4 linked regions of the Homo sapiens genome follow. The protein of the gene in region 2 interacts with the protein of the main gene of each other region in a pairwise test. Each region holds a gene or a part of one and is shown on either strand. Other genes may lie near its edges.

Evidence for each region. The genes of interacting proteins can lie anywhere in the genome.
Region 1: the proteins of UBTFL1 (region 2) and NOTO interact in binary tests that used the Homo sapiens proteins (3 or more experiments, as listed by UniProt).
Region 3: the proteins of UBTFL1 (region 2) and ZNF558 interact in binary tests that used the Homo sapiens proteins (3 or more experiments, as listed by UniProt).
Region 4: the proteins of UBTFL1 (region 2) and ZBTB7B interact in binary tests that used the Homo sapiens proteins (3 or more experiments, as listed by UniProt).

Annotation. Positions count from the first base shown.
Region 1 is NC_000002.12:73,205,574-73,209,073, forward strand, and holds part of NOTO (homeobox protein notochord), read left to right. Parts: intron 1-2,826; coding exon 2,827-3,041; intron 3,042-3,500. UniProt on the Homo sapiens protein: Transcription regulator acting downstream of both FOXA2 and Brachyury (T) during notochord development. Required for node morphogenesis.
Region 2 is NC_000011.10:90,084,802-90,087,631, reverse strand, and holds UBTFL1 (upstream-binding factor 1-like protein 1), read right to left. Parts: upstream 1,683-2,830; coding exon 501-1,682; downstream 1-500. UniProt on the Homo sapiens protein: Essential for proliferation of the inner cell mass and trophectodermal cells in peri-implantation development.
Region 3 is NC_000019.10:8,825,805-8,829,304, forward strand, and holds part of ZNF558 (zinc finger protein 558), read right to left. Parts: intron 1-3,500. UniProt on the Homo sapiens protein: May be involved in transcriptional regulation.
Region 4 is NC_000001.11:155,009,302-155,012,801, reverse strand, and holds part of ZBTB7B (zinc finger and BTB domain-containing protein 7B), read right to left. Parts: intron 2,545-3,500; coding exon of another isoform or gene 2,405-2,544; intron 2,342-2,404; exon of another isoform or gene 2,054-2,341; coding exon of another isoform or gene 1,787-2,053; intron 1,226-1,786; exon of another isoform or gene 186-1,225; intron 1-185. UniProt on the Homo sapiens protein: Transcription regulator that acts as a key regulator of lineage commitment of immature T-cell precursors. Exerts distinct biological functions in the mammary epithelial cells and T cells in a tissue-specific manner.

The sequences.
Region 1 (3,500 bases), on a different chromosome or scaffold from region 2:
GATTATGGCGGTATTCTTTTGTTACATAGAAAAAATTTTAATTTTTATGTTTGATGTGTTTTTACAAATCCTTTTTTTTTTCTTTTTTGAGACAGGTTCTCTGTCACTCATGCTGGAGTGCAGTGGTGCGATCACGGCTCACTGCAGCCTCAATGTTCCAGGCTTAAGCACTCCTCCTTAGCTTCCTGAGTAGCAGGGACCACAGGCATGCGCTACCATACTCAACTAATTTAAAACATTTTTTTTTGTAGAGATGGAATCTCACAATGCCTGTCTCAGCCTCCCGAGTAGCAGGGACCACAGGCATGCGCTACCATACTCGACTAATTTAAAACATTTATTTTGTAGAGATGGAATCTCACAATGTTACCCAGGCTGATCTTGAACTCCTGGGCTCAAGTGATCCTCCTGCCTCAGCCTCCCAAACTGCTGGGATTACAGGCATGAGCCACTGTGCCTGGCCCCACATCTTATATGATACTTGGAAAGAACTTCCTCACTGTGAAGTCATAAAATAACTTCCCCATTTTTTTCTAAATTTTTGTGGGTTTACCTTTTTACATTTAAATATTTCCTCCATTTAGATTTTTTTTAGTGCAAGGTATTGGGTATGGATCCAGCTTAATTTTTCCCAGATCTGGAAATAATCCCTCTTCCCCATTGGATTATCACTTCTGTTTTAATTTTTATAATAACCATTGACTTTCTTCTTGCTCTGTGCCTGGCACAGTGCTAAGCACCCTGTAAGCATCATATGCTTTTGTTTTTGTTGTTGTGGTAGTTGTTGTTGTTGAGACGGGGTCTTACTCTATTGGCAAGGAGTGATCTCGGCTTGGCTCACTACAACCTCTGCCTCCCGAGCTCAAGTGATCCTCCTGCTTCAGTCTCCCAAGCAGCGGGGTCTACAGTTGTGCACCACCACACCTGACTAATTTTTGTATTTTTTGTAGAGATAGGGTTTTACCATGTTGCCCAGGGTGGTCTCAAACTCCTGGGCTCAAGCGATGGGCCCATCTCAGTCTCTCAAAGTGCTGGGATTATAGGCATGAGCCACTGTGCCTAGACAGCACCATGTTAAAATCCTGACATCTCTGGAAGTAGGGATTATTATCACCATTTTACATGTGAGGAAATCAAGGCTCACAGAAGTACATTGTCTTGCCCAAGGTCCTCTGGCTGGTAATTGGTGGCAGAGCTAGGATTCCAACTAGAGCTTTTTTTTTTTTTTTTTTTTTTTTTAAGACAGAGTCTCACTCTATCACCCAGGCTGGAATACAGTGGCACAACCTTGGCTCACTGCAACTTCCGCCTTCCAGGTTCAAGCGATTCTCCTGCCTCAGCCTCCTGAGTAGCTGGGATTACAGGTGCCCACCACCACATCTGGCTAATTTTTGTATTTTTAGTAGAGACGGGGTTTCGCCAAGTTGGCCAGGCTGGTCTTGAACTCCTGACTTCAGGCTATCCGCCTGCCTCAGCCTCCCAAAGTGCTGGGATTACAGGTATAAGCCACCATGCCCGGCCTCAACTAGAGCTCTTAAGGAACACACAGTACAGCCTACTTTCTTCTCCAAAGGTCAATTTCTGATTCTGAAACAAGGCTGACTAGATACACCAGGCTGTATGTCTGATGGGCTTTTCCTGATCTTTTGGTCTACCTTGGCAGGCACAGTGTAAGCCTAGTGGGCCCAGTGGTTGGAGTCCTAAGCAGCCGGGACCCCAGATACACTCCCTTTGTTGGGGCAGTCTGTCTGCCAGCCCTGAGGACTCCCCAAGGCTAGTGGGGGCTGAGTGGCCTTAGCATTATGCTTGCCATTCTTCTGCCTAGAATACTATACCCCCAGATAGCCCAATGGCTCACTCCCTCATCCCCATCAAGATTTGACTTAGGAACTGCTCTTGGTTGATGCATCTCCACTGGCCCACAGCTTGGTCTCATTTATTCCCGTGGCTTAAAATACCATCTATATAAGCTGATGACTCCCAATTTTTTTTTTAATTGAGACAGAGTCTTGCACTGTCACCCAGGATGGAGTAGAGTGGGCTCTATCTTGGCTCACTGCAACCTCTGCTTCCCGGACTCAAGCAGTTCTCCTGCCTCAGCCTCCTGAGTAGCTGGGATTACAGGCATGTGCCACCATGCCTGGCTAATTTTTGTATTTTTAGTAGAGACGGGGTTTCACCATGTTGGCCAGGCTGGTCTTGAACTCCTGATCTCAAGCGATCCGCCCCCTTCAGCCTCCCAAAGTGCTGGAATTACAGGCATGAGCCAACGTGCTCAGTGATGACTCCCAAATTTGTATCCTCAGCTCAACCCTCTCTTCTGACTTCTATCTCTTCTGACCTCATTTCTAAGATGTAAGCTCCATAACGACAGAGATTTTCTGTTTTGTCCTGAAACCATGCATGACACACAGTAGACATTCAAAAAGTATAATATTTGTTCAGTGAATTAAAAGGGTGAACCCCTGGGGGTCTCTTCTCTGCCCATTCCATGGCGTTGCCAGAAGCAGTCAAGGAGAGGAAAGGAAGGCAAAGAGAAGGGAGGTTTGGCAACTCCTCTTAGGGGCCAGAAGTGAAGCCACTTGGCTAGAGAGTAGTGGTGGCAGACAGTCTCATTGCATTGTCCCTTCTTTCCCATTTGTTTGTTTCCTGTTATTTCTGCACAGTCTCTTTCCACTGTCTTCTTGCACTGTTACCTGGCCAAGGGGAAGGCAAGGTAGCAGAGCTGTGTGTGCCTTCTCATTTTGCCCAGATGGGAGTGCAGGGGGCTTCTGGCTAACCTCCCCTGCTGCTGGATAACCTCCCCTGCTGCTGGTTGCTCTTTAGGGTTGGAGCTGGCTCACTGCTCAGGACTCTGGGCCTTCCCAGACTGGGCCCCAACGGAGGACCTACAGGACACTGAGAGACAGCAAAAGAGAGTCCGAACTATGTTTAACTTGGAGCAGCTGGAAGAGTTGGAGAAAGTGTTTGCAAAACAGCACAATCTGGTGGGGAAGAAGAGAGCCCAGCTGGCAGCTCGGCTCAAACTTACAGAGAACCAGGTGGGAGTAGGGACTCCTATTGGGCCTGGGCTGCACCTGGGGACAAACACTACCTCAGCAAGGCCCTAAAAGGAGGGTGGGAGGAAGATATGGGCCCTCTTCCCTGTGCCAGGCTGTTGAGGGGACAGGCCCTGACTTTTTGCACACTCTATATAATGAAAAAAAAAAGTCCCATTTGAAGTCACATAATGTGAACAACTTGGAATGTTAACTTAGATTATTAGTCTAAAAATTGATAATAAAGGATTTCCATGCTAAATAAGGACCTGCCAGTAAAATTAAGTAGATGTGGCCAGGTGCGGTGGCTCACGCCTCTAATCCCAGCACTTTGGGAGGCTGAGGTGGGCAGATCACAAGGTCAGGAGTTCAAGACCAGCCCAGCCAACATAGTGAAACCCTGTCTCTACTAAAAATACAAAAAAATCAGCTGGGTGCCTATAATCCCAGCTACTTAGGAGG
Region 2 (2,830 bases):
ATCAAGAGTGGGACAATTCTCTTAAGACACCTACCCCACCTTTCATCAAATATCCCCGACCTTAGATTTAGTGCAGGAGTCCTGAAAAACATTTCCACAGGGAAGTTTGGGTCCCAGGCTTATGGGTATCCCCCTACCACCTTTGGCAGGACAAAAATGAGTAAAGCAAAGCTTCTTGCTTCAGAAATATTCAGTCTAATACAGTGTGTACCCCACAACGTAATCATCTCTTCATTTCAGAAGCCTTAATTGCATAAAGTTCCTCGGGAAAGGGATGATATTTGTTTGTTTGTTTTTTTAAGGATAAGGCCAGTATTGGCTCAAACTTATATTTATTCTTCCCAAAGAGTTCCTCCCAGGTTCATAATCTTGATGTAGGAGAGTGCTGCACCAAGTTGCTTCTTTCTTCCCAACCTGTCCTACTTTGCGGGAGGAAGGAAGAAAAGAAAACAAACAAACAAAAAAAAAAAAACAAGGAAGCTGCACTAGAGCCACTGCCCTCAGACATCAACTTCTATTTCTTCTCCACTGCTGCAGTCTGAAGAGTTACTGCTTTCTTCCTTTTCTCTATCTTTCTTCCTGTTCTCTTCTGGTTCCATGGAGACATGACAGTTTACCCAAATAGTCTGTGATGAATCTGTTCCTGCAGCCTGGAGCCCTTGCCCCTCCCCAAACCCTTCTTGCAGACCCTTTGCTGATGAGGACTGTGGATCTGCTTGTTTCAACCTGGGGTCCGGGCCTCCTGTCATGGCCATATTCTTACCCTTAGCATAGGTCGATTCTTTGTATGCAGCATAATTTTCAGGTGACAAAGTCTTGAGCCAGAGATCCAATTTCACCTTGTATTGCTTCTGCAGCTCCTCAGCCTGGCTCTTAAAATGATCCTTCTGGCTCTGCGGGATGCGCTGCCAGCGTCTGCCAATCTCTACCATGCGCTCCCTCACTGACAAATGTTGCATCTCTTTACTTGACCAGGAATCTTGGTGAAACTTGTGGTATCCATTCATGGGGGGTTTCTGAGGCTCTCCATGAAATTTTACCTTCTTGAAAAATCGATCCGTTTTTGGAAGAGACCTCACTTCTTCAATATTTTTCTGAAACTTCTTTTGCACTTTGTTTTGAGTCCTCTTGGAGACACTAGATTTCTTGGCCTTCTGGACTAAATCAGGGTGTTCTTCCCTGAATCGAGCAAGTTTTTCCTCAAATTCTTGCTTTTCCTTCCGGAAATCCTGAATATATTTCTGTTTCATCTGCTCTGGGAGTTCCCTGTATTTCTTTGACAGGATTTTGGTCAGTTCCTGGCTTCTCATCCCAGGGTACATTTGGGAGTACTGGGGCCAACTCTCCTTGAAGAAGCGATTGTAAGCAGTAAGGGGCCTCTTTGGAAAGTCTGGACCGTTCCTGTATTTTTGGCTTTTGTTCATCTTTTTAACACATTTCTTAGCTTCCAGGACTAATTCTTTCAAAGTGCCGAATTTTCTCAAGTTGCAAGAAATCTCTAACCATTTGAGTCTGCACATTTCACCAGAAAAGTTTTTAAAAGCTACTTTTCCCCAGTCCATGTGTGACTGAGTTGAGCTAAACGTGCTGTTGTCATCAGATGGGCGATTATTCTCCATGCATTCCAGTAACCTCAAGATGTCTTTGTTGGACCAATGGCCTTGGCTTCTAGGCAAAGCCATTTAGATGTCTTTGGCTTACTTATAAGATCCCGGTTATGTAGACACCAGAGCAAGAACACAGAGTTCTTTACTTTTAAGACTCAGTGGATGATTTATTTCTGGAAGTATTGCAGTATGTGTGATTCTGTATTTCTGAGGAGAAAGAAAGTTACTCTCCTTCATTTGGATTAATGAAGCAAATTACATCCTATTTGTCATATGTCCCTTGTATAATTCATTTGACCCTTAACTATAAATAAACATTGCCTGTTTCTGAATTAAATTTATGTTTGCCTTTCATATGCTACATGCACAATATTCAGTATCTCCACACCCCACCCCAGCCTGCTTTCTGCCAGATCTCACATGAACCTATCTTAAATTGAGTTGCATAACACAAACACCAGACCACTCATCACTTAAGAAGCTTAATATAACAGAAATGCCCTGAAGACAGAGTCAGAAGTTAAAGTGGAAGGAGAAATGCCTAAACAGGAAGGACTGTTCATTCTACAGTGCCCTGAGTATGGCCATTTTCTAAGCACAGCCCAAATAGCCATAGCTAAAGGTGCAGATGAGAAGTTAAAGATACAATCGGACAAGCCCAAGAGCTCCTCCAGACATGCATCCAACTGTTACCTTTTTATAAGGGAATGTGAACCTGTGATAAAAGACTGAATTATAGATTCTCCAGGACCAGTGCATGGGAATTAATGCTTTCTTGCTTTCTTTTATTTCTTTTTTTTTTTTTTAATTGAGACGGAGTTTCACTCTTGTCGCCCGGGTTAGAGTGCAGTGGGGCAATCTGGGCTCACTGCAACCTCTGTTTTTCAGCTTCAAGTGATTCTCCTGCCTCAGCCTCCCAAGCAGCTGAGATTACAGGCATGTGCCACCACGACTGGCTAATTTTTCTGTATTTTTTAGTAGAGATGGGGTTTCACCATGTTGGCCAGGCTGGTCTCGAATTCCCAACCTCAGGTGATCCGCCTGCCTCGGCTTCCCAGAGCGCTAGGATTACAGGCGTGAGCCACCACTCCTGGGCCGGGAATGAATGCTTTCTAAGAACCATACTGCTTCTCCTTTTAAATATCAAGGATTTAATGACAATTATAAAACATTTCAACTTTATTTGGTTAATTGTTCATCATATTTAAGCCTCAGTGAAAGTT
Region 3 (3,500 bases), on a different chromosome or scaffold from region 2:
TGCTCTCCCAAGAAAGGGGTCTGTGTTCTAATCCCCAGAACCTCTGGATCTACTCCCTTACATGGCAAAAGGGATTCTGCAGCTGTGAGGAAGGCAAGGATCCTGACATGGGGGATGATGCTGGGTGGGCCCACTGTGATTACAGGGGTCCTTATAAAAGGGAAACAGGAGGGTCAGTTCAAAGAAGGATGGGATGAGATGAGAGAAGAAGGGAGCGTGTGTGTAGCAGGGAGGAGATAACATACAGAGAGACTGGAAGATGCTGCCCTGCTGGTGTTGATGATGGAGGAACAAGCCACAGTCAGGGAAGGCTGGTGGCCTCTACAAGATGAAAAACGCAGGAAATGGGTTCTCCCCTAGAGCCTCTAGAGCAGTGGTCCCCAACCTTTCTGGTACCAGGGACTGGTTTCGTGGAAGACAATTTTTCCATGGAGCACGGGGCGGCAGTGGGGCTGGGCAGGGAATGGTTTCAGGATGATGTTTTATAAGCACATTACATTTATTCTGCACTTTATTTCTATTATATTACACAGTAATATATAATGAAATAATTATACGACTCACCATAATATAGAGTCAGTGGGAGCCCTGAGCTTGTTTTCCTGCAACTAGATGGTCCCATCTGGGGGTGATGGGAGACAGCAACAGATCATCAGGAATTAGATTCTCCTAAGGAGTGTGCAATCCAGATCCCTCACATGCAAAGTTCACAATAGGGTTTGGGCTCCTATGAGAATCGAATGCTGCCACTGATCGGCCAGGAGGTGGAGCTCAGGTGGTAATGCGAGCAATGAGGAGTGGCTGTAAATACAGATGAAGCTTCGCTCACCTGCCACTCACATCTTGCTGTGCAGCCCTGTTTATAAGCACTGGTCCGTGGCCCAGGGGCTGGGGACTCCTGCTCTAGAGGGAATGCAGGCCTTCCAGCTTATTGAGGATTTCTGACCTCCAGCAAGGCAAGAGGATAAATGTGTGTTGTTTTAAGTCCCTGAATTTGTGGTAGTTTGTTATAGCATCAATAGGAAACTAACATGCCTTTCACATCACACCTTCCCTTTGGGTGAGTTCAGCAGACCCAGGCAACTGCTGCAGAACTTCCCTACCCTCTACAGGGGGAAGTATCTCCTTTTTCCCCGTAACAGACCTAATGTGCAGGTAGGCACACAGTAGTTCCAGTCACTGAGCTGGGGAGTGAGGGGGGGTTGGCCTCCAGCCAGCTCACTGGGCCTCCAAGAAAAAAACAAGTAGAGAAGGTACCTGGGACATTTTCAGGCCCCAAGTCCCTATTCAAGGCTGTCTGGAAGCAGAAATTTCCCACTAGGACAGGAGGGGTCTCTTCAGTTTACAGATCCTGTGACACCTGCCCTGCCCTGGATACAGTGCTGGAGGATGGTCACAGCAGATGGGCCACTCTATGTCAGCTGCCCAACACAACTTCTGGTGATGATGGAAATGTTCTATAATTCTGCTCTAATACTTGAAATGTGACTAGTATGGCTGAGAAAATAAATTTTATTTTTTTTGGGAGCAATCATCTGATTCCTAAACTACCTCCAAACACCCCCTCTTTTGCCTCTTAAATGTCTTCCTTCTGAATCCTGAAGTCCTTGTTATCTGCATGCTTACACTACATGCAAATTGCATCACCCTCTGGCCCACAACTCTTTAGTGTCTTCCCACTGGCCTGAGAACAGAGTCTGAAGTGAGGCCTAGTATGGTTCTGCCTCCCTCTTGATCTTGGTCTTGGTCACACTTCTTTCCCTATTCTTTTTTTTTTTTTTTTTTTTTTTTGAGGAGTCTCACTCTTACACCCAGGCTGAATGCAGTGGTGCAATCTCTGCTCACTGCAACCTCAGCCTCCCAGGTTCAAGCAATTCTCTTGTCTCAGCCTCCCGAGCAGCTGGGACTACAGGTGTGCACCACCACACCCAGCTAATTTTCGTATTTTTAGTAGAGACGGGGTTTCACCATGTTGGCCAGGCTGGTCTTGAACTTCTGACATCAGGTGATCAGCCCACCTTGGTCTCCTAAAGTGCTGGGATTACAGGTGTGAGCCACTGCGCCCAGCTTCTTTCCCTGTTCTTGTCTCGGCTTCAGCCATCCCTGTGTTCCCAGTGCAGGGAGCGTGGCAGCCTCTCTCCTGCTGCAGGGCCTTTCCTTACACAGCTTCTTCGACGGCAGTGCTCTCTTGGACATAACCCTGTCCCCTCACTCTAGTCGAGCCCTATGACTAGCTACATCTGACCCCAACTTGGAGATGGAGCAGCAATTCCCTTTTTCAGGGGCCTGTGAACCCCAAGTGGGAAAATAAAGGAAAATCCTGAAGTTCCTTTAAGGGAAATTCCGAGCATCCAGCTAGCCCCAAAAGTAAATATGGAACTTGTTAAACAGGAAGGTAATAGTAACCTAAAACAACAGCCAAAGAAGTTAAGGCTCCAGAGATGTTCGCTTTCCCCATGGAAACTAAAGATAACATCTTAACATGCGTCCCTGAGTTGCCTTTCAGAGGCTGGGACTCCCACTGAGGACCCCACCAAATGGAGCTGCTGGCTCAGAGACCCCAGATAAGCGGGACATGAAGGCTGAGCTTCAGCGTTCTTTGTGCTAAGTTTCTTCTTGAGGGGCTTGGAGAAAGTCACTTCTCCCAGCCAGTTAACATTTTCCTACTGACTCTAAATTTTTAAACAAAGCTTCTTTTCTTTAACCAATTACAAATCAGAAAAATCTTTGAATCTACCTATGACAAGCTCCTGCTTCAAGACATCCTTGCCCTTTTAAGTCTAAACCAGTGTGTAACCTCCATGTATTGCTTTATGATTTTGCCTGTAGCTTCTGCTTTTCTGTAACTTACCATTGCCTTCAGAAATCCTTGCCTAGCCGGGCACGGTGGCTCATGTCTGTAATCCCAGCACTTTGGGAGGCCTAGGCAGGCGGATCACCTGAGGTCAGGAGTTTGAGGCCAACCTGGCTAACATGGTGAAACTCTGTCTCTACTCAAAATACAAAAAATTTGCCAGGTGTGGTGGTATGTGCCTGTAATCCTAGGGACTGGGGAGGCTGAGGCAGGAAAATCACTTGAACCTGGGAGGCAGACGTTGCAGTGAGCTGAGATCGTGCCATTGCACTCCAGCCTGGGTGACCAAGTGAGATTCTGTCTCATTAAAAAAAAAAAAAAGGCCGGGTGTGGTGGCTCATGCCTGTATCATCTCAGCACTTTGGGAGGCTGAGGCGGGTGGATCACGAAGTCAGGAGATTAAGACCAGCCGGGCCAACATGGTGAAACCCCGTCTCTACTGAAAATACAAAAATTAACCGGGCATGGTGGTAGGCGCCTGTAATCCCAGCTACTCAGGAGGCTGCGGCAGAACTGCTTGAACCCGGGAGGCCGGGGGTTGCAGTGAGCTGAGATTGCAACACAGTACTCCAGCCTGGGTAACAGAGTGAGACTCCATCTCAAAAAAAAAAAAATTCCTTGCCTAAAAGCCACTGGGGAGGCCAGG
Region 4 (3,500 bases), on a different chromosome or scaffold from region 2:
GTGAATGGGGGAGTCAAGCCACAAATTTCCTCTTTAGGACACAAGAAGTGCATTCTCTGTGTCTGCCTCCCTGCCTGCCCTCTTCATTGCAAGGCCAGGGCTCCTGCACAGAAACCTTGGGTGAGCAGCACCCGCATGTCCTTCTTTGCTTGTAAGCCACCTCTAGGCACCCTTAGATAGCTCACCTGTTCCCACCGTAAGTCCGCAAACCACTTCTCTCCCTAGGAACCAAGCCATCTGGGAGCTCTCCCTGCTCCCTTTAATCCTCCTGCCTGTACTTTACAAATGGTACAAGTGGCAAATGGCCCCCAGACTTGGGAACAAACAAAAACCAGGTGGGCAGCAGCAGCAGCAGGAGGAGCAGCAGCAACAGTGGCTGCAGCTACTTAAGCAGCAGTAGGCACCCTCCTGGGCCCAAGTGGATCCTGTCCCTCCTAAGGGGGATGGGTGGGGCTGTCCTCGCTGTCCATTGGCTGGGAGCTGGGCACTGGCAGGCACGTGGCTCACCCCATCCCTCTCCCTCCTTCCCTGCCCACCCCACCCATTCCCGCTGCTAAACCCGCCTCCTTTCTCCCACCCCAGGGCCGGTCTCCGTGGCAACTTGGTGTGGTGGGGGCGCTGATTGGCTGACCTCACTGTCAGGTCACAGGCTCAGGCTCGTTCACCACGCAACTCACACAGGGATTGGGCAAGGGTGGGTGTTTAACTCCTTAGGCCCAAATCCAATGCCCATGGCCAAGAGGTAGCAATGAAAGAGGGGGAGAGGCAGAGGACATGTGTGGGAAGGAGAGGGTGTTCATAAGCTTCTCTAGCTTCTGGGAAACTCCCCTAACCCTTACCCAGGGCTCTAACACCCATGCCAATATAGGTGCCACCTGGAGCTATGGTGGTGCCAACCAGGCCAAGGGGCCCTCCTAGACCCATCATCTGGGAGGGATGGGTGGGGCAAAGGCCTCCCCCTTCTTTCTGCCAGGGCAGGGCACTGGTGCCAGGGTGCCCACCCTACCTTGGGCACCTTTCCCACCTCTGCATCCCAGAGGGCCCAGTCCCCTGACGCCCCATGAAGGCGGCCCATCCCCACCCAATCTGGCATGCCCCCTCTTGCTAAGACCTTGTGGGCATGGGTGTGTGTGGTGGTTGGGGGTGCAGCTGTGCCAGGGAACCGGGCAAGGTCTGTTTGGTCTGTTTGCCTGGTAGGGGGAAGAACTGGGGGCCCCACCCCATCACTCCCCTCTTTCCCGCCACCCCCCCAGGCTCCCCTCACTGTCAGGCCTGCTAGACCGGCCAAGCCGGTGGGCAGCTCTCTTGAAACTGGGCCCTGAGTCAAGCCTGCCCTGTCCTTGGTTGGGGGAAGACTTCAGGGTGAGAAAGTTGGGAGGGGGTAAAGGTGGGAGTGCCTATCACCTACCCTTCAGTGCTCAAGGGCACCTGGCAGGGTATGTCCAGCACCAAGAAACCAAAAGGTGGAGGCCACTGGCCTGGTCTTGGAAAGAAAAGGGAGATGGGAACTCTTTCCGGGTGCTGACCTCAGGCAGGGTCCAGTGCAGGGCTGGGGGCCACGAAGGCCAACACTGCTGGCTTGAGCCAGCCGAAGGGCAGGGATAGCAGGCCCTGAACAGGGCAGCTGAGTAAAGCTGACCCCCCTTTCCCCCACCCTGGGGATTAGGGGAGTGAGGCTTAGTGTGGGGGGCAGCAGGCGGAACCAGGATTAGCAGCAGAGAAAATAGATATGGGCCTGGGACACAGGCACGCAGAGCCCCCCCTCCCCAGGTTCCAAGGCCCCTACCTCTAGGCTCTGCCAGGGAGCCTGAGAGGGGCCTGGCCAGGCTTCTCCAGGAGCAGCAGCTTGGGGTGAGGGAGGATGAGGACCAGGCTGTAACATCTTCCTGCCAGGGATGATGGAGAGACCTGAGGCTCTTCCCAACGCTCCTGGTGCCTTGGCTGGCCACCCCTCCCCCTTACTTCTGTCTCCTTTCTCCCTCCACCCCCCCACCCCAACTCCAGCCTCAGGTTCTCTTCCTGTTTTTTTGGAGCTAAGTTTGCACGAAGCCATGGCTTTGGCCTGCGTCTGGACCAGGGGGGTGGGGAAATTGGACAGCCAGTCCAAAGTCCTAAGGGACCCAGGAATCCTTGTTCTCCAGCTTCCCCCACCGCTTCCCAGGGCCTCTGGGGCCCAGGAGCTGCAGCCATCTGGATTGCCCAGTTGGGGAGGGAAGGTAAAGGGGCTGAGCCTCTTCTCACATGAGGACTAGAAGGGCTTCAAAGAAGAGGTTCTCTGCCCAGGGATGCTCTGACATTTATGGAGCCCTTCTCTCCCCACCCCAGCCCCTCCAAGCTTGTGCATGCCTTCCCCATCCCCCATATGACGCTTCCCCCTCCTAACCTCACCACCCCCAGCACTCACACTTCCTGGGGGCCGAGGCGGGGAAGAGAGACCGCAAGCCACGAAGGGGGAAGGAGGCGAGGGGAGTTGGCTGCTTCCCGGTGCTGTGGGGGTTAAGTCTCTGCCCAGCTCCAAATCCCCCAGTCCTGGTTCTGGGGCTCCTGAAATGAGGGAGACCTTAATGCTTCCCTACATTTTCTTTCCATGACACCAGCCCTTGCCCATAGCCCCTTAGTCCCCATCAAGGGAAATATGAGGAAGATAAAAGATGGCGGAGGAAGGAATGGGGGCAACTCTCTCAGCCTTAGCGCCGCCACCTTTGGGTATTCCCTGCCATCATCCAGCCCTCACTCTTGCCCCTCTCTTGGCCTCCTGGTTCTGTCCCCTCATTGCCTCCTCCGACCCTTGTCTTCCCTCCACAAGTCCACCCTTTGCTTTCCTTCCTTCAGCCCTCCCTGAACTCCGCATCCTCTCCACCCCATCAGTGTCCCTAGGCCTCCTCCCAGGAACTGTCCCTGCCTCTCCTTTCTCTTCCCCTTGGTTCTCTCTTGCTCAAACTTCTCCACTTTCTCCATTGGCCCCCTGCTCCAACCATCCATTCCCTTCTTCCCAGGCATATGAGGGGTGGAGAGCCGCAGAGGAATTAAATCAGGGACCAGGCCTGCCTTCCAATGCCTGGTCTTGCCAAAAGATGGTTGAGTTTAGGGCACCCACACCCCACTTTTGGATGAAGCAGGGGACCACAATTTGGGAGCCAGTTGGGGAGAATGAGTGGTGGAGGGGGGTTTGCAGCGAGAGCGGATGTGGGGTGGGGGTGGGGGGACAACCTGTGCCTCTCTGCCCGTCAGAGTTTCCAGCCCTGGAGCTGCTGGACTTTCCCCGGAGGGTGCCCACCCTGGACCAGGCAATTGTCCACTTGGACAGACTCTGGCCATCAGGATTCTCAGCAGGGTCTGCCTGGACAGTGCCAGCTCCCCTTAGGGCCTGAGGAGACCGCACAAGGTGCCAGGGTCTGCCCTGTGCCCACCCCCTCCCCCCCAGCCTAGTGTCTCCGGCTGGGTAACCGAGCTGGCTGGTAACCCCACACCCGCCAAGCCGCCAGCAGAAACCTGAGCCC